Linked DNA regions of Homo sapiens. Changing the gene in region 1 together with any one later gene gives a genetic interaction. Each region holds a gene or a part of one and is shown on either strand. Other genes may lie near its edges.

Region 1 (7,987 bases):
AACCGACTCATTTATTTATTCAACAAATACTTTTTAATACCTACCATGTACCAAGCCCAGTGCTACTGCTGAGGAAAAACAGGTGAAAAAGATAGACAATTCTGTCTCTAAGGTTCAAATCCTAGCAGGGAGGCTGATAGATCCCAAATAAAACAAAATGAAGTATGTGATAAGTACTGTGTTAGAATGTTGAAAGGAGCCAGGAGATCTTCTGACAACGGTCCTAGCCTTGTTGGAAGTAGTTAGGAAAGGGGAAATGGAGGACATAACAATAATAATAATATAATAGAATAATGGCTAGTGCTTATTGAGTACTTACCATGTGCTAGGTAAGCACCTAAGATTACCTCTCTTTTAACCCTGAGATAGGAAATTTCCCAGTTTGCAGATGAAGAAACTGAGAAGTCACTTGCCTAACATCATCACTAGGCCAGCTGGTTGGTTCATGCACTCTTTGATTTGAAGCCAAGCGGTCTAAGTCCAGAGTTATCTTCTTAAGCCCCCACTGCATTGCCTCTGGACAACACAGACTTCCATTTGTCAGAGGTGTTCAAACCAGGCACCTCCATCTTGAGTGGGGGGCTGGGTAAGATGAGGCTGAGACCTGCTGTGCTTCATTCCCAGGAGGGCAGGCATGCATTCTTAGTCACAGAATGAGACAGGAGGTTGGTAGGACTGATTTCACCATATACAGTTCGGGTCACAAAGACCCCTATGATAAAACAGGATGCAGTAAAGAAGCTGGAGAAAGCCCACCCAAACCAAGACTGCAATGAAAGTGACCTCTAGTCGTCCTCACTGCTCATTATATGCTAATTATAATGTATTAGCATGTTAAATACATTAGACACTCCCACCAGCGCTGTGACAGTTTATAAATGCCATAGCAACATTGAGAAGTTACCCTATATGGTCTAAAAGGGAGAGAAACCCTCGGTTCCAGGAACTCCCCACCCTTTTTCTGGAAAACTCTTAAATAATCCACCCCTTGTTTAGCATATAATCAAGAAATAACCATATGTATACTCAGTCCAGCAGCCCATTCCCTGCTCTGTCTATGGAATAATCACCCTTTTATTCCTTTACCTTCTTAATAAATTTGTTTTCACTTTACTCTGTTGGCTCGCTCTTGAATTCCTTCCTGTGCAAGCCAAGAACCCATGTGGCCCCCAGGCTGAACCCCAATTTAGGGGTTCATCCTGTGACCCATTGGCTGGAAAAGGTGTAGGAAACCAAGTAGCTTTGTCATTGTCCCAAAGCTCCACTCTCACCCCCACCCAACAGCCACATCATTATGCCAGCCAGCTCCAGATCCTTGAAAAAAGTAGCCCTCTAAAAATGTATGGAGGTTTCCCAACCCATCTATCCAGAGGGGGCTGAGACCTAGCTGTTTGGAAGGGTGAGAGTTGGGAGAGGGTAGTTGTCACCTCCTGAAGGAGTTCCTAGGGTGACCAGAGGGCATGGGCGTCTTCTCCCGGACAGGTTGAGGGGGAGGCTGGAGGGCAGGGTGGCTGAAGCAACAAGGGAGCAGATATCCCCTGGACTGGAAAGGACATCTTGATGGGTCCCTGGCCTGCCTCTCTCCTCAGGCCCTACTTACGCAACACTGCGGCCAGGCTCAGTGCCCCTCCAGCCAGGCGCGCGCACGCTCACAAGACAACATCTGAACCGCGGTTTGGGAGCCCAGCCAGGAAGGAGGGCTCTCTGGCCGCTCTCCGACCCGAGCGGAGCGCAGTCCGCCCCCGCCCCACGCGCCGGGCCCTCCAGCGCCTGCCCCACTCCTCCTCCCTCCTGCCGGGCCAGCTCTCTCCTTCTTTTCTCCGACCCTTTGGAGAAGTTCGAGGAAACTTTCCGAGGCCCAGCCCTTGACCAATTTGTCCATTAAGCCAGGAGAAAAAAGATGCGCTCTCTGCTTCCCTCCTGCCCCAATCACTTCCCAAATGGCCCCCTCGAGCTGTTTGTTTAAAGGTCCCTCTCCGGATCTGTGCCGAAGGTTCCTAGAAATTTGCCAAGCCCCGCTTTGACCAAGCTCCCTCCCATCCTTATGCGCGCATAAGTTTACCCAAATTGTGTGCCAGAGCACCGTTCCCAAAGTCCTACATTAGCAAAAACGACCCCTGTAGCTGTTTGCCAAAGGCTTACCTAGACGCTTGGCAAGAGCCCTTAGCAACTGCCCAGATGTGTCCAAAAGTTGTTTACAAAGACCGCCCCCCCCCCCCGCCAAATGTCCCAGATACTAGAGGATGTCCCCGCTATTTACATAAGAGTCCCTTTCCAGTAGTTTGCCAGGTCACCCCTCTCCCACTCTCTGGCTTGTTTTTCGCCCCACTGCTGTATGCTGAAGGTTGCCAAATTGTTTATCAAAGGTTTTCTTTGCTTACAAAAGATCCCCCACCGTTTGCAAGAGATCACTCCAATAGCTTGCCAAAGACCCCCCAAGCTGTTTACCGAAGCCCCTCCCCCACGCTGTGTGCCCACCGCCGAGGGCAGGGGGAGAGACACCCCCATCCTTTGCCTCCGAAGTTTGTCTAAACGTGGTTCCTTGAGGCCAGCGCAGCAACTCACCACTGCCAACTCTTTGTCCGTTTTGGGGGCGACATCGCCGGGGAACTTGATGATGGGCGACGGCGCGGCGGCGGCGTGGCTCAGCAGGCAGCCCAGGAGACAGAGCGCCCTCAGGGGACCCGTGAGCGCGCCCCGGGCCATTAGCGCCTCCATCGTAGCGCTCCCTGGCCCCGCGCGTCGCCCGGGGGTCGCTGGCTCGGTGCGTGTGGCCGCCTCGCCGCCTGGTTGGAGCCTGCTCCGCGGCGCAGGGCTGCGCTCCGAGGGTCCGCTGGCTCGGTGGCCTGGGGTTTGCCCGGCTCAGCGGCTCATGGTCCGGCCCCCGCGCCCCAGCCCCCGCCGCCGCCGCCGCCGCCGCAGGTCCTGGCAATCCCTTTGTATGTTTAAAGCCCCAGATGCGCAGCCTCCAGCCACCGCCTGAGGAAGTCTGGATGCAGCGGAAACAAGGGAGGGCAGCCGCCAGATGTAGCCGGCTGGGCTGGGAGGGAGCTGGCAGAGCGGGGCTGGGGGCGGGGGGCGCACTCGGGCCCGCCCCTCTCTGCCCCACCCCCCTACTCGCCCTCCTCCACTTTTCTCCTCTTTTTTCCTTTCTCCACCTCTTTTCCCCGGCCGCCTGCTACTCCTGGCCTCTACGTCCACCCTCAGTGCACGACCTCGTCACCCCACTTGCCTCTCTCGCGATCTGGGCGCACAGCCTCAGAACCCCCTGCTGGGAAACATCTGTCGCTCTAGGCCCTTGACGTCCTGAGGTTAGAGAGCAGCGGTACTACTAGGAGGGACGCCGGCTTGGCTAGGACACCCTGCACTCCCTGGGGTCAGGAACGGGAAGGAATGGTCAGAAACAGATGATCAGCCACAATGATAGATGGTCAGAGACAGAAATTTTCGATATTTAGGGATAGGGACAGAGAGATTCTGGGATGAACAGAGATGGAAAGAGAGAGATGGAAACAGAGACAGTGGAAGGTCCCAGGTTGCTTCCTTACCTCTTTCCTTCTGCAAATGTGTAAGCCTTAACTTGGCCTCGTATAGTGCGAGATGCTAGATACACCTTGGGAAATAGAGCAGTCAGGGGCCCCGCGTTAGAGACGTTGGAACCAGAGCGACTCCATCTTGAACAGGGGGCTGGGTAAAATGAGGCTGAGACCTGCTGGGCTGCACTCCCAGGAGGGTCCGCATTCTCGGTCACAGGATGAGATAGAAATTGGGCAAGACTGGTTTAATAAGATAGAGGTCACAAAGACCCCACTGATAAAACAGTATGCAGTGAAGAAGCCAGCCAAAACCAAGATGGCAAAGAAAGCGACCTCTGGTCATCCTCACTGCTCATTTTACGCTAATTATAATGCATTAGCATGTTAAAGGAAGCACCCACCAGTGCCATGGCAGTTTATAAATGCCATGGCAATGTGGGGAGGTTTACCCTATATGGTCTAAAAAGGGGAGGAGCCCTCAGTTCCACGAATTCCCCACTCACTCTTGAATCCTTTCCTGCGCCAAGCCAAGAATCCATGTGGCCTCTCAGGTCGAATCCCAATTTTGAAGTTCTCCCTGTGACAACCGTCTCTGAGGAATGTCTTCTCCCTCTCTCAGGAAAGACAGTTGAGAGATAAGCTGTGATGGGGAACTCCAGCAGGCTGTTGGGAACGCCTGACTTCAGCCCCTAAACTAGTAAAGACAATCAAGGAAGGCTTCCTGGAAGAAGTGACTTCTGAGCTGAGACCTGAAGAGCTAAAGAGGTGGAGTGCTGGGTGGGGAATATGGGGAATGTTTTAGGGAACATTGACAATGGCCCAGAGATGAAAAACAGCAAGAGGCACTGGAGAAGAAAGTTTTTTCTATCTGAAAAAGGTGGGGCACAGGGTGAGGGGATGGAGCTGGAGGGGTCAGTAAGGACCAGCCTAGGAAGGGGGCAGATAGGACTGGGGGTCAGCAGGGAACAGTTTGAGAAGTAAGGTCAGGGGCTGAAAGAATCAGGAGCAATATACTTGTGGGGGGCATTGGAGGTCACGATTATGTCTTGATCATCACAGCTAGAAAAGTCTCTGCGGCTTGGGTCTCAGTGGGCTTCAGACAAGTTCAGGCTTGTCTGGTGGGTGTGTGCTCTGACTTTCCAGAGTCAGTTTTAAAGGACCCTCTTGGGAGGGACCTTGCCCCGCAGGAGGGAGCCAGGCCCTTCAGCCTGACCCAGTGACAAACCTTGGCTGTTTTGGAGAGGGCGAGACTGAGGTCAGTTGGGAAGGGGGATTGCCTCCTGGCCCAGCCCCACTGGGCTCATGTCCACGTCCTGTGGATAGCCAGAGAGCCAAGTTGGAGAGCTGAGAGCTGAGAGTGAAAATGGAAAAAGTTATCTCACTAAAGCAGGGGCTGCAAACTCGTGGCCTGTGGGCTAAATCCAGCCTGAACAGCATTTTGAAATTTGGGAAACTTCATGTAAAAATCTGACTTTCTGGTTTTCTTTTTTTAAAAAAATTTCCCAAAAATCTGGCAATACTGGATGCCAGTTTCCATATGGCAATAATTTGCTGAAGTTGAGTAGTGACTGCTCCCTTTAGATGAGGCACATACTTTGGTTTGCCACAGTCCTCACCACTCTCTATTGTATTGCCTTGTATGTGACTCCCTTCACTAGGTGTTGTTCATTTACACTTGCCCAATTTGAGTTTTAACCTTTTCAGAAAGTCTCTGGAGTCTGCATAACATGCTTTGGAGCTCCTCTGGCAGAGGGCAGCTTTGACTGTACCTCTTCACAGCCTCTGTGGTTTTGGCATTCCAAGGGTATCGGTTTCCAGTGTGGGGCTTGGTGCCCATTCAGAGATGGCAATGGCTGCAGAAGCAGCACTCAGTGAGAGAGAGGCTTCTGTGCCCAGCAATGACTATGTCAGAGGCATTGGAACCAGAGCAACTCCATCTTGAATAGGGGTTAGACTAAGACCTGCTGGCCTGCATTACCAGTAAATTAAGGCAATCCTAATCACGAAATGAGATAGGAGGCTGGCACAAGATACAGGTCATAAAGACCTTGCTGATAAAACAGGTTGCAGTAAAGAAGCTGGCCAAGACCCACCAAAACCAAGATGATGATGAGAAAAACCTCTGGTCAGCCTTACTGCCACACTCCCACCAGCGCCACGACTGTTTACATATGCCATGGCAACGTCAGGAAGTTATCCTATACGGCCTAAAAGGCAGAAGCATGAATAATTTACCCCTTGTTTAGCATATAATCAAGAAATAACCATAAAAATGGGCAACCAGCAGCTTTTGGGGCTGATCTGCCGATGAAATAGCCATTCTTTTATTCCCTTACTTTCTTAATAAACTTGCTTTCACTTTATGGACTTGCCTCAAATTCCTTCTTGTGTGAGATCCAAGAACCCTCACTTGGGGCCTAGAATGGCCCAGGGGACGAGGAGAGAACAGGCAGTATCTGATGATAATGGGCTTGTTGGTGAGCACATGCAATATGCTCCAGGGCCCCTGTGCACTCCTGTATATCTCTCTTCCCCTGCCACGGTAACCCTGGGAGCCCTGTGTTGATCTAGCAAAGTCGTAAAATGAAAGCAACCAGACCCACTACAGACTTCGTAAGTGAAAAACAAACTCTTAGGCAACGAACCATGGAGCTTTTGGGATATGTTTGTTACTGCAGCATCTTTTAGTCATTCTTAATATAGATGCAAAAATGCTGTTTAGTGGATATAATTGTGTTGCCAAAAAGATATGTTCAAGTCCCAATGCCTGTGACTGTGCCCTCACATGGAAATAGGGTCTTTGCAGATACAATCAAGTTAAGATGAGTGGGCTCTAATCCAAAGCCTGTTGTCATGATAAGAAGACAAAACTTTGGACACAGAGACACACAGCAAGAAGAACTCCATGTGACCATGGAGGCAGAAATTGGAGCAATGCCTGCAACCCAAGGAGTTGCCTGCAACCCAGAAGCTAGAAGAGACAAGAAGGAATTCTTCCCCCAGAGGCTTCAGAGGGAGCGTGGCCCTGCTGACATGTTGGTTTTGGACTTCTAGTCTCAGAGCTCTGAGAGAATAAATTTCTGTTGTAAGCCACCCAGTCTGTAGTGCTTTTTTACAGCAGCCCCAGAAAACTACGCAGGCTGTGATTAGAAGACGTCGCGATATGACATGAATTCTGTCATTTATTCGGGAAGTTTTTGATGAACACTGTTTTTGGTGCTGGGGTACAGTGGCATTAAGGTGGTGTTTTATTGATGAAGAGGCAGAAATTACAGTGCGGGACACTAAGCAGGGGACAGAGCATTGAGGGAGGTAGTGGCCGTGTGCCATGTAAGCCTTCCCAAGACCCTGTCCTCCTACTTTTAGTAGCTGCCCCTTAGTTTCCCATTGGGAAGCTACTTCTCCCCAACTCTAGGTCTGAATTCAGCAGATGTGACCCACCTCCTGGCTCCACAGTGGCAATGTGACCCAAGCTGGGCTAAAAGGCAGATCCAGGCATCTTGGTGAGGTGATGATTCAGATACCGGCTTGTGAATCCACTGGAGCCAAGGAAAGTTAATTCTGGGACTTTAGCTGGAGGTACAGGTTACCTCATTTTATTCACACTTTGCCCTACTGTGCTGTGCAGAGATAGCAATTTTGCAAATTGAAGGTTTGTGACTACCCTGCGTCAAGCAAGCTTACTGATGTCATTTTTCCATTAGCATGTGCTCACTTCCTGTCTCCGTGTCACATTTTGGTAATTCTTGCCATATTTCCAAATTTTTCATTGTTATTATATCTGTTATAGTGATCTGTGATCAGTGATCTCTGATCTTACTAGTTAATTGTTTTGAAGTGCCACAAATGTCAGGCCTCCAAGCCCAAGCTAAGCCATCATATCCCCTGTGACCTGCACGTATACATCCAGATGGCCTGTTCCTGCCTTAACTGATGACATTCCACCACAAAAGAAGTGAAAATGGCCAGTCCCTGCCTTAACTGATGACATTACCTTGTGGAATTCCTTCTCCTGGCTCATCCTGGCTCAAAAGCTCCCCTGCTGAGCACCTTGTGACCCCCCACCCCTGCCCGCCAGAGAACAACTCCCCTTTGACTGTAATTTTCCTTTACCTACCCAAATCCTATAAAACGGCCCCACCCCTATCTCCCTTCGCTGACTCTCCTTTTGGACTCAACCCGCCTGCACCCAGGTGAAATAAACAGCCTTGTTGCTCACAGAAAGCCTGTTTGGTGGTCTCTTCAGATGGACGTGAGTGAAAACAAACTGTGCCCATATACAAGGGTGAACTAAATCACCCTTGTAAATGTGTGTGTTCTGACTGCTTTACCAACTGACTGGCCATTCCTCATTTCTCTCCCTTTCTGTGGGCCTCCCTAGACCCTACAATCAACAATATCAAAATGAGGCCAGTTAATAACTCTACAATGGCCTCTAAGTGTTCAGGTGA
Region 2 (8,729 bases), on another chromosome or scaffold:
CCACCCCACCACTGCCTGGGGAGGGCCTCAGAGACAGTGGAGGCCCTCGCTCCACCTGCCTCCTGGCTTTCTCTGGCAGCCACCCCATCCCTACCTGGCTCTGGCAGGGTCAGGGAGCCGGCACACTGCCAGGCAGCCCTCTGAGGCTGGCCCAGCCTCCCAGCCTTGCAGTGCCAGCTCACTCAGCATCTCAGGGTTTGGCACAGATAAAGAAGGATAGGGTTTGGGCATTGGAGACCCATATTCAGGTCCCTCCCTTGTCACTTACCAGCCATGGGACAAATGATTTATTTGCCACTTTTATTCCTTCAACACGTTTGGCTAGGGGAAAAAGGGCTTTCAGTATAATGAAACACTCATGCATCCGGCCATCGTCTGGCCTGGGACAGAACACACCGTGATACAGTTAGAGGCCAAGGGTCTCCTCCTCACCCCCCCTCCTCCCTCCCTTCCAGGGGCAGCCTCTGTCCTGGGTGTGGCAGTCACCATTCCTCTGCAGCCTTTCATACTTTGACTGCCCTTGAATGTATTCACCAACAGTAGAGCAACAGCTCTTGCCCCTGGCTGCACATTGCAACTCCCTGGAGAGCTTTGAAAAGATGCCTTGGCCCAGGCCCGCCATGGAAATTCTGCTTCCAACTTACTTGGTCTGGGCTGGGGCTGGCCTCAGGCTTTTGGAAGCTCCCTGGGCAGTTCTTATGGCCAGCAGGGGCTGACGACTGTTGTTTCACAGTTCAGATAAATGGTGTCACCATAAACATGCCTTTCTGCAAGTTGCTGTTTTTGTTCAACATTATAGGTATATTTGAGATGGGATCTTGCTATGTTGCCTAGACTGGACTCTTAACTCCTGGGCTCAAGCTATCCTCCCACCTCAGCCTCTGGAGTAGCTGGGATTACAGGCGCGCACACCTGCTCCCCGCTTTGAGCTGAGCATTGGAGTCTGGATGTCTCTTGGTGGGGATGTGTGTAGGCCTGGGACAGGCCATTTGTTTTTCCTGATGGTGTTTCTTTTTGTGATCGTGTCACACAGGAGTTGCCTGTTCACCTGTTGATGGCCACTGAGGTGGTCCGTTGGAGCTATAACCGTGCAGCAGTGGGCCTTCTGGAACGCGTGTTCCTGTAGACCATGGCCAGAGTCTCTCTGGCATATGCCTAGTAGTGGAAAAGCCGGAGCTCCCCGCTTTCCTAGCGGTTGCCAAGTCATGCCCCCAGTGGCTGGACCACTGTGCTCCCCAGCAGGCTCCGGGGCTCCCTTTATTTCAAGTCCTGCTTTGGGCAGCTTTGTGGCCCTCACTGAAACGATTTCCTCGGCCGTGACATGGGAGGTTTATGGGCCCACCCACCCACCCACCAGGCTGTTTGGAAACAGATGGGGAGATGGTTCACACAACTGGCTTAGCTGGGACCTCGTCCCCACTGACTCCCTACAACCACAGGAGAAGAAAGGATGGAAGGGCTTTCACCTTTACCCCCTTGGGCATCCAGGACGGTGACTGCAGCTTTGCCCCAACTGCCCTTGGGGGCAGGTGCCAGGGGTGACAGCTGGGAAAGAGAACTATACTGATTCGAACCTCTCAGGAGGGAGGCAGGGAGGACGGAGGTGAAAGTTGGAGGATGGGTGAGGCCTTGTAACATTCTTTCTGTGTATCTGACTGTTGGTCCCAGTGGTAACCAACACAGCCCAGCTCTACCCTTGTAGATTATAGTACAGTGAAGGAGACAGACCTGCTGTCCCCAGACGGTGACAGCCCAGAGAGGCCAGGGCTGTGAAGGAGAGGCCTAGGCGAGGGTCAGGGCGGGATGTGGGGGGGACCCAGGCAGAAGGGTCAGGGCGGGATGTGGGGGGGACCCAGGCAGAGGGGTCAGGGTGGGGTGGTGGGACCCAGGCAGATGGGTCATGGCGGGATGGGAGCGGGGACCCAGGCAGAGGGATCAGGGTGGGACTGGGGGGGACCCAGGCAGAGTGGTCAGAGAAGGATGGGGAAACCCAGGCAGAGGGGTCAGGGCGGGATGGGGAAACCCAGGCAGAGGGGTTGGGGCTGGATGGTGGGGAGGGGCACAGAGAGGGATTGGGACTGGGATGGAGGCGCAGGGACCGTAGGAAGCCCGAGGAGGCATGTGGCCCAGCGTGGGGAGTTGAGGAGGGCTTTCTGGATAAGATGACATCTGACTGATGAGAACATATGAGCGAGGCTGGAAGGAGGTGGAAAGAATGTAACAGGTCATGGGTACGGAAGTGCCAAGGCCCTGAGGGTCGGAATGACCTCGGAATGGTCGAGGATCATCAGATAGGCCGGTGTAGGCTATGCTGTGCACCCTGACTGTGTGGTAGCCTTGCTCTGCAAAGAGCAGTTAAAGAAATACATAAAATATAAAATAAATAAATAAATAAAAAAGCAAAAAAAAGAAGCCAGTGTGGCTGAGCAGGGGGTGGGGTCAGAGGCTTGGAGGCGGTGTTGGATACAGCAGGGCCTAGCAGAGCCAGGTGGGGTGTGTGGATTCCATTCTGTGCATAATGGGAAGTCATCAGAGGCTTTAGTGACATCTGGTTTTCCCCTTATAAAGATTGCTCAGGCTGCTGTGTGGGGGACGGATCGCGGGGGGTGGCGACAGGGAGGCTGTGGGGAGGCTGCTGTGACAGTCCAAGCAGAAGAGGGTGGAGAAGACGAGGGGACAGTGATGGAGGAGCGTCCTCGTGCCAGCTGAGGTCATCAGCGCTTTACCCCTGTTACCTCACTTCATCTTCACAGCAACCTGTGAAGTAGGTGCTAGTATCATCCTCACTCTAGAGATGAGAAAGGAGGCCCAGAGAGGTACGGGACTTGCTTAAGGTCACACAGCAGGCAGTGGCAGAGGTAGGATTGAACCCCAGGCCTTGGGGCTTCAGTGTCACTGATTACTGGGGCTGCCCTCCCGTGGTTTGGAACTGGCTCGGACAAGACAGGCCTGATTCCTGTTCAGCTGGTTCTTACCCAGGCTCCTTTGTTGACAGAAGTTCCGTGGAGACCTGTTCCCCCTGGGTAGTTTCTGGGCGCTGGGTCCCTACCTCCCTCAGGGCCTCCCTTTCCTTTCTCATCTACTCCTCGTCCCACTGGCTCGTGGTGAGCCAGACTTCCTGGCCAGACACCGGTCAGGGGTGTCCCCAGCAGCTGTTTCTCCCATCACCGAGCCCAGCCCCGCACATGCTGCCAGCAGGAAGCAACCTCCTTCCAAGTCATGGCCAGGGAAGTGGGACCCTTCCCGCCTAGTCACCCATCCGGGGCCAAGGCTTCTTGTCTGCCAGACGCCTTGGCCCACAGGAAGGTTGGAGGGGCCGAGGAGGGTGAGAAGGGGAACACTCTCCCATCCCAGGGGAGCCAGCGCTGGCGGATGCGACAGAAGCCACCGCTCACTGAAGCCTCTCTCCTGGGACCCTCCGGTCCTGCCCCGACCCTTCCCAGGCTGGGAGGCCATCTGCTGCCTTCCCGAGGGGCAGTGGAACTTCCCTGCCAGGGCTGCTCAGTCCACACACATCCCTTAGCCTTTTTCACTAGCTGGGAGCCCCTGGGGAAGAGACAAAGAACTTCCCTGGGCCTCTGATTCCTCACCTGTTACAGGGAGTATTGGTGGCCACCTCTCAGGGCTGTGGGAGGGCGGAAGATCATGTGTGTGCGTCGTGCTTAGCCCGATGCTCAGCACTCAGTAAGTGCTTGGTAAATGTTGAACTTGGTGCGTTCGATGGTTTCCGTCCCTTGCACCCTGTCCCCCTCTGGGTTCTCATCCCGTAGTGAGCTGTAATAACCCCAGCCCCCCGCCCGGGGTCCCAGCTCCACGTGCCAGGCACGCGTGTGCTGTGAGTCTATGAGCATGGTCATGTGGCTGTACCCAGAGACCCTGAGGAGGAGGTGTTTTTAACCTCGTTTCTCTTTTCCCGTGTTTCAATTTTCAGAAAGCACGTTTTTCCTCCATGTGCATGCATTACCTATTCCCCTAAATAATCACTGAAAAACTGCACACAGCACAAAAGGATGTACAGGGACGAGCAAATCTCTTTCCCACCCGCCTGCCAGGCCCTTCCCAGAGATAGCATCATCACCCCCGGTTTCTTTTCTTTCTTTCTTGAAATATTTGTTCCCCCAAGTGCCCGCCCCTCCCTTTTGTTTTTACTCAAATGGAGCGGACTTCCCATGTTTATATTCTGTCCTGTGCTTTGCGTTTCCCACTCCGAAGCTCGCTGTCAGGACACAGAGTGCCGCCTCGTGTCCCACGCACACGCGTGCCCCCACGGACAGCACAGCCATTCTGTGCTGATGGCCATCAGGCCATTCCCATCTTTCCGTGCTGTGAACAGGGCTGCGCCCGCCTGAGTGTGGCTGTGCATATGTCTCTAGGTGTGAGTCTGAGCTTGTGGCCTCGTGGTCTGAGACAGGTGCCCCGTTAACTTTGCCGGTAGTGTTAGTGTTTCACCCTGCTGGGGAGGTTGTCTGGCTCACACTCCCACCCCCCAGTGTCTGATGACACCGGGGTTTCCTCACTCCCTTGCTGGAATAGACGGGTGTCACCTGACATTCTCACCTTTGCCAGTCAGATAGGTGACAAACAGTCTCATCATGGTTCTGATTTTAATCAGAGCAAAGTGGGACAGCTTTGTGTTGTTGAAAGCCATCTTGAGCTTCCTTTTCTTGGAGCTGTCTATTCCTGATAATTTTACTTTCTCTGAGAAGGGGAAACTGAGGCACAGGCCAGCAGTCCCACAGCAAATACGTGGCAGATGTGGCACTCAAACCTTGGCTCCGTTCTGGAGCTCCTAACCCATCTGACACAGAAGAGGTCAAGGGCTTGGCCTCCGGAGCCAGCTTTGTCTCTTACTAGCAGTGTGACCCCAGACAAGTCACATCACCTCTCTGTGCCCGGGTGTCCTCATCTGTAAAATGAGGGTGCTAATGATATCTACTCTTAGAGTTGTTTTGAGGATCTAAATGTATATTCGGCAGGCAAAATGTATAGTAAGTGCTCAAAGACTGTTAGCTGCGTTACTAATAGCCGTATTATTAATATTATAGCTATGTCACCAATAGCCATGTTATTAATATGAGCAGGCACTGTTTGAGTGCTTTCTGTGAACTAACCTACTGGACCCTCCCATCAACTCCAAGACACACGTGTTCTTAGGATCTCCCTTTTCTAGGGAGGAGACTGAGAGCCTGGGGGACCTGGCCCCGTCACAGAGCAAGAGGAACTGGGATTTGGATGCTGGAGGCCTGGCTGGTAATCGCTGTGGCCGCTTCCCCTGCTACCCGGGGCTAAGCCTGAGGGTTACAAAGCTCTCCCTCCTGCTTCCCCCACCCACCTTCTGCTGTCTGCATTCCAGGCAGGCTGCCCAGGAGCTTTCGAGCAGACACCTTGAGGGTTGGGAGCACCGGGTGGGCAGGGTCCTCACCTAGAGAGCTCCCCGTCCCAGACCCTCCCTGCTCCTGCCACCTGTCCTGGGAACTCCTGATAAAGCAGCATTGTGCAGCGGTTTTGAGTTCACTTCCCAGCCCGGTTTTGCCACTCCCACACTTCACTCCCAGAGGCGGAAGGCGGCCGGTCTTCCTGGGCTGCGTGGGGTGCCAGCCCCCCTCCCCTTCCCTTCCCTCCCTCACTGCGCCCACAGTCACCGGTCAGCACTGGCCATGGGGAGAAAGTAGGACCCTGCGGGCCACTGGCCCCTCCACAGACCCGTCCCCAGGTGAAGACCCCTCCCTGCCCTCCCCACAGGAGGCCCCTGTCCTTCTCTCCCGAGGAACCCTCCTTCCCTGCCGCCCACAGGGGCCTCCATAGTTCTGTCGTCCCTTCCCCGCAAATCTTCCACTGCAGCCTGGGCCCACGTTATTTGACTCTCAAATGCTATATATATACACAGCGCTTCTAACTCCACTGCTTTTAAAAAACCTTTAATAATTGTCAATTATAATATGCCCATAGAAAAGTGCATAAAATGCACAGGTAAGTTTAGCAAAGAATTACAAAGTGAACAACGCTTCCCCACCACCTCGGTAAAGACAGAACACAACCTCCCAAAAGCCGCCTGCCCATAACCCCTGTCCATCACGACCACAGTCGTGAGTGCTCTCCTGACCTTGGTGGTCACTGTGTCCTTGCTTTTCCTGATAGTTTTTACCATGAGGTATGCATCCTTGAATTACAGAATGTCATCTTGCCTGCTTTTGAACTTGACATAAATGGAATCTTCCAGTATGTCCTTGTCTGTGCTTTCTTTCGCCCTTAGGCCTGTGAGATCCATCTGTGTGCTGAGTGTATCTGTAGTCATTCATCTTTGTTGCTGTATAATATTCTTTTTTTTTCTTTGACACAGAGTCTCGCTCTGTCACCCAGGCTGGAGTGCAGTGGTGCAATCTTGGCTCACTGCAGCCTCTGCCTCCTGGGTTCAAGCGATTCACCTGCCTCAGCCTCCCGAGTAACTGGGATTACAGGCATACACCGCTATGCCTGGCTAATTTTTTTTTTTAATTTTTAGTAGAGAGGGGGTTTCACCACGTTGGCCAGGCGAGTCTTGAACTCTTGACCTCAGGTGATCCACCCACCTCAGCTTCCCAAAGTGCCGGCATTACAGGCGTGAGCCACTGTGCCCAGCCCCATATAATATTCTGTTCCTCCATCTCCTGCTGCGCTGATGCGAGCCATCTCTTTGTAGCATCTCCTGGGGTGCCGGTGCCTGCGTTTCTTCAGGGAATATACCCAGGAGTGCGTAGCCCAGGGCAGAGGGTGGGGTAGCTTCAGATTTAGTGGGCGCTGCCACACAGCCTCCCAAGGTGGTCAAATCTGTGTATCCTCCTAGCGGTGGTGACTGAGGATCTTAGTTGCTCCACCTCCTCACCAACATTTGGTACCGTCAGACTTTTTGGTTGACCTTGGAACATTTTTATTCTTTTTTCCTGCAAAAGTAACACCACTGGTTATCATCGGGCTGAGCCCCTCATGTTATTTTGTCCTCCCCTTGCTCCTGTCCATTCCGACTCTCACCCATTCTGTGGACAGGAGTCAAGTGCTTATTCTTTTTTTTTTTTTTTTTTTTTTTTTTTTTGAGATGGAGCCTTGCTCTGTCACCAGGGCTGGAGTGCAGCAGCGCGATCTCAGCTCACTGCAACCTCCGCTTCCCAGATCCAAGCCATTCTCCTCCCTCACCCCCTCAAGTAGCTGGGATTACAGGCATGTGCCACCACGCACGGCTAATTTTGTATTTTTAGTAGAGACAGGGTTTTACCATGTTGGCCAGGCAGGTCTCAAACTCCTGACTTCAAGGGATCCACCTGCCTCAGCCTCCCAAGGTGCTGGGATTACAGACGTGAGCCACTGCGCCCTGCCCAAGCGTGTATTCTTTGACCAGCTTTGCGCTGGGGCCCAGCGACTGAAGGGTGAACCCAAACAACAGGCAGCCCTCCCCGAGCTCAGTCCAGTGGGAACACAGACCTCGACTGCAGAGCAACAGAAAGATAAGCCGGGCTGGAGGCTCCCGGCCCCCATCTTCCCACAGTGACCCCATTTTGGGAACAGGAACCCCCATCCCTCGTCTTGTTTCGGGATTAGGCTTCTCCAAATCTGGCACCCTATCACCTTGACTCCTCTCTTGCCCCCCCGCCACATCCAAAGTGTCTGGAAAGCCTGTCACTCTACATGACAATGTAACCTGGTGCTGCGGGCTCCTCTTCCTTGTCACTCCCCTTCCTCGTCATCCCCCTTCTTCGTCACCCCCCTTCCTCGCCACCCCCTTCCTGGTCACACCTCTTCCTCGTCACCCTTCTTCCTTGTCACCCCTCTTCCTCGTCACCCCCCTTCCTCATCATCCCCCTTCCTCGTTACCCCCCTTCCTTGTTACCCTTCTTCCTCGTGGCCCCCTAGTTCAAGCCACCCTCATCTCCCTCCTGGACCATTGAGGCGTGCTCCCTGCTCCCTTCTCCCCCACTGTCCCCACAGTTGTCCGCACACAGCCAGAGGTAGCCGTGCACACCTGGTCAGGGCAGGAACCCTCCCCTGGCTCCACCTCTCCCAGCAGAGAAGCTTGCAAGGTCCCAGGCAACCTGGCCACTTTCCTGCCTGCCCTGCTTCCCTCTTCTCCTGCCACCATTCCTGGAACATTCCAGGCAGGTCCTACCCCGGGGCCTTTGTTCTTGCTGCCCCCTGGGCAGGCAGCACCCTCCTTCCTTCTGTTCAGTCAGCCTCTGCTGACAGTGGCCCCCTTGGGGAGATGTTTCTTCCCGACCATGGGTCCCCAGGAGCAGCCCCTGTCACCCTCCCTCTAGCACCTTCCCCCGGTAACCCTCATGATGGTTACTTCCATTATGACATGTGGGTCTGTTGGTTTATTTTGTCTCCCGGCATAACGTAGCCTCAGGGCATGGGGGTAGGGGTAGAACCACAGGGCCTTGCCCTGCCCCTTGCTATGTTCTCAGGGATTGGAGTGTGGTAGTCTCTCAGTAAATGCTGGTTGACTGACTGACTGACTGACTGACTGAACTGTAGTAAGCTGGGCTGCCAGAGCGTCTAATGGGGACCCGCCCTGGGTGGGGCACACCGGGAAGGTTTTCCTGAGGAGGAAATGCCACTTGAAGGATGAACTTGGCCTCGACTAAGGGAGGAGGCTGAGGCAGCTGCCATTGCAGAGGTCTCCCGGCGGGGGAGTGCAGGGGGCCTTTGAGGAATTGAAGGAAGACAGGTAGGTCGGTTCTTGGGTTGGTCTGGATTCC

The links. A genetic interaction does not mean that the proteins touch.
Region 2: changes in MMP2 (region 1) and PAK4 impair growth when combined (synthetic growth defect), as found in Homo sapiens cells (one study listed by BioGRID).

Annotation. Positions count from the first base shown.
Region 1 is NC_000016.10:55,474,211-55,482,197, reverse strand, and holds the start of MMP2 (72 kDa type IV collagenase isoform 1 preproprotein), read right to left. Parts: upstream 3,001-7,987; 5' UTR 2,719-3,000; coding exon 2,566-2,718; intron 2,201-2,565; exon of another isoform or gene 2,143-2,200; intron 1,666-2,142; exon of another isoform or gene 1,601-1,665; intron 642-1,600; exon of another isoform or gene 323-641; coding exon of another isoform or gene 320-322; intron 1-319.
Region 2 is NC_000019.10:39,128,285-39,137,013, forward strand, and holds part of PAK4 (serine/threonine-protein kinase PAK 4), read left to right. Parts: intron 1-5,902; exon of another isoform or gene 5,903-6,920; intron 6,921-8,137; exon of another isoform or gene 8,138-8,279; intron 8,280-8,729. UniProt on the Homo sapiens protein: Serine/threonine-protein kinase that plays a role in a variety of different signaling pathways including cytoskeleton regulation, cell adhesion turnover, cell migration, growth, proliferation or cell survival.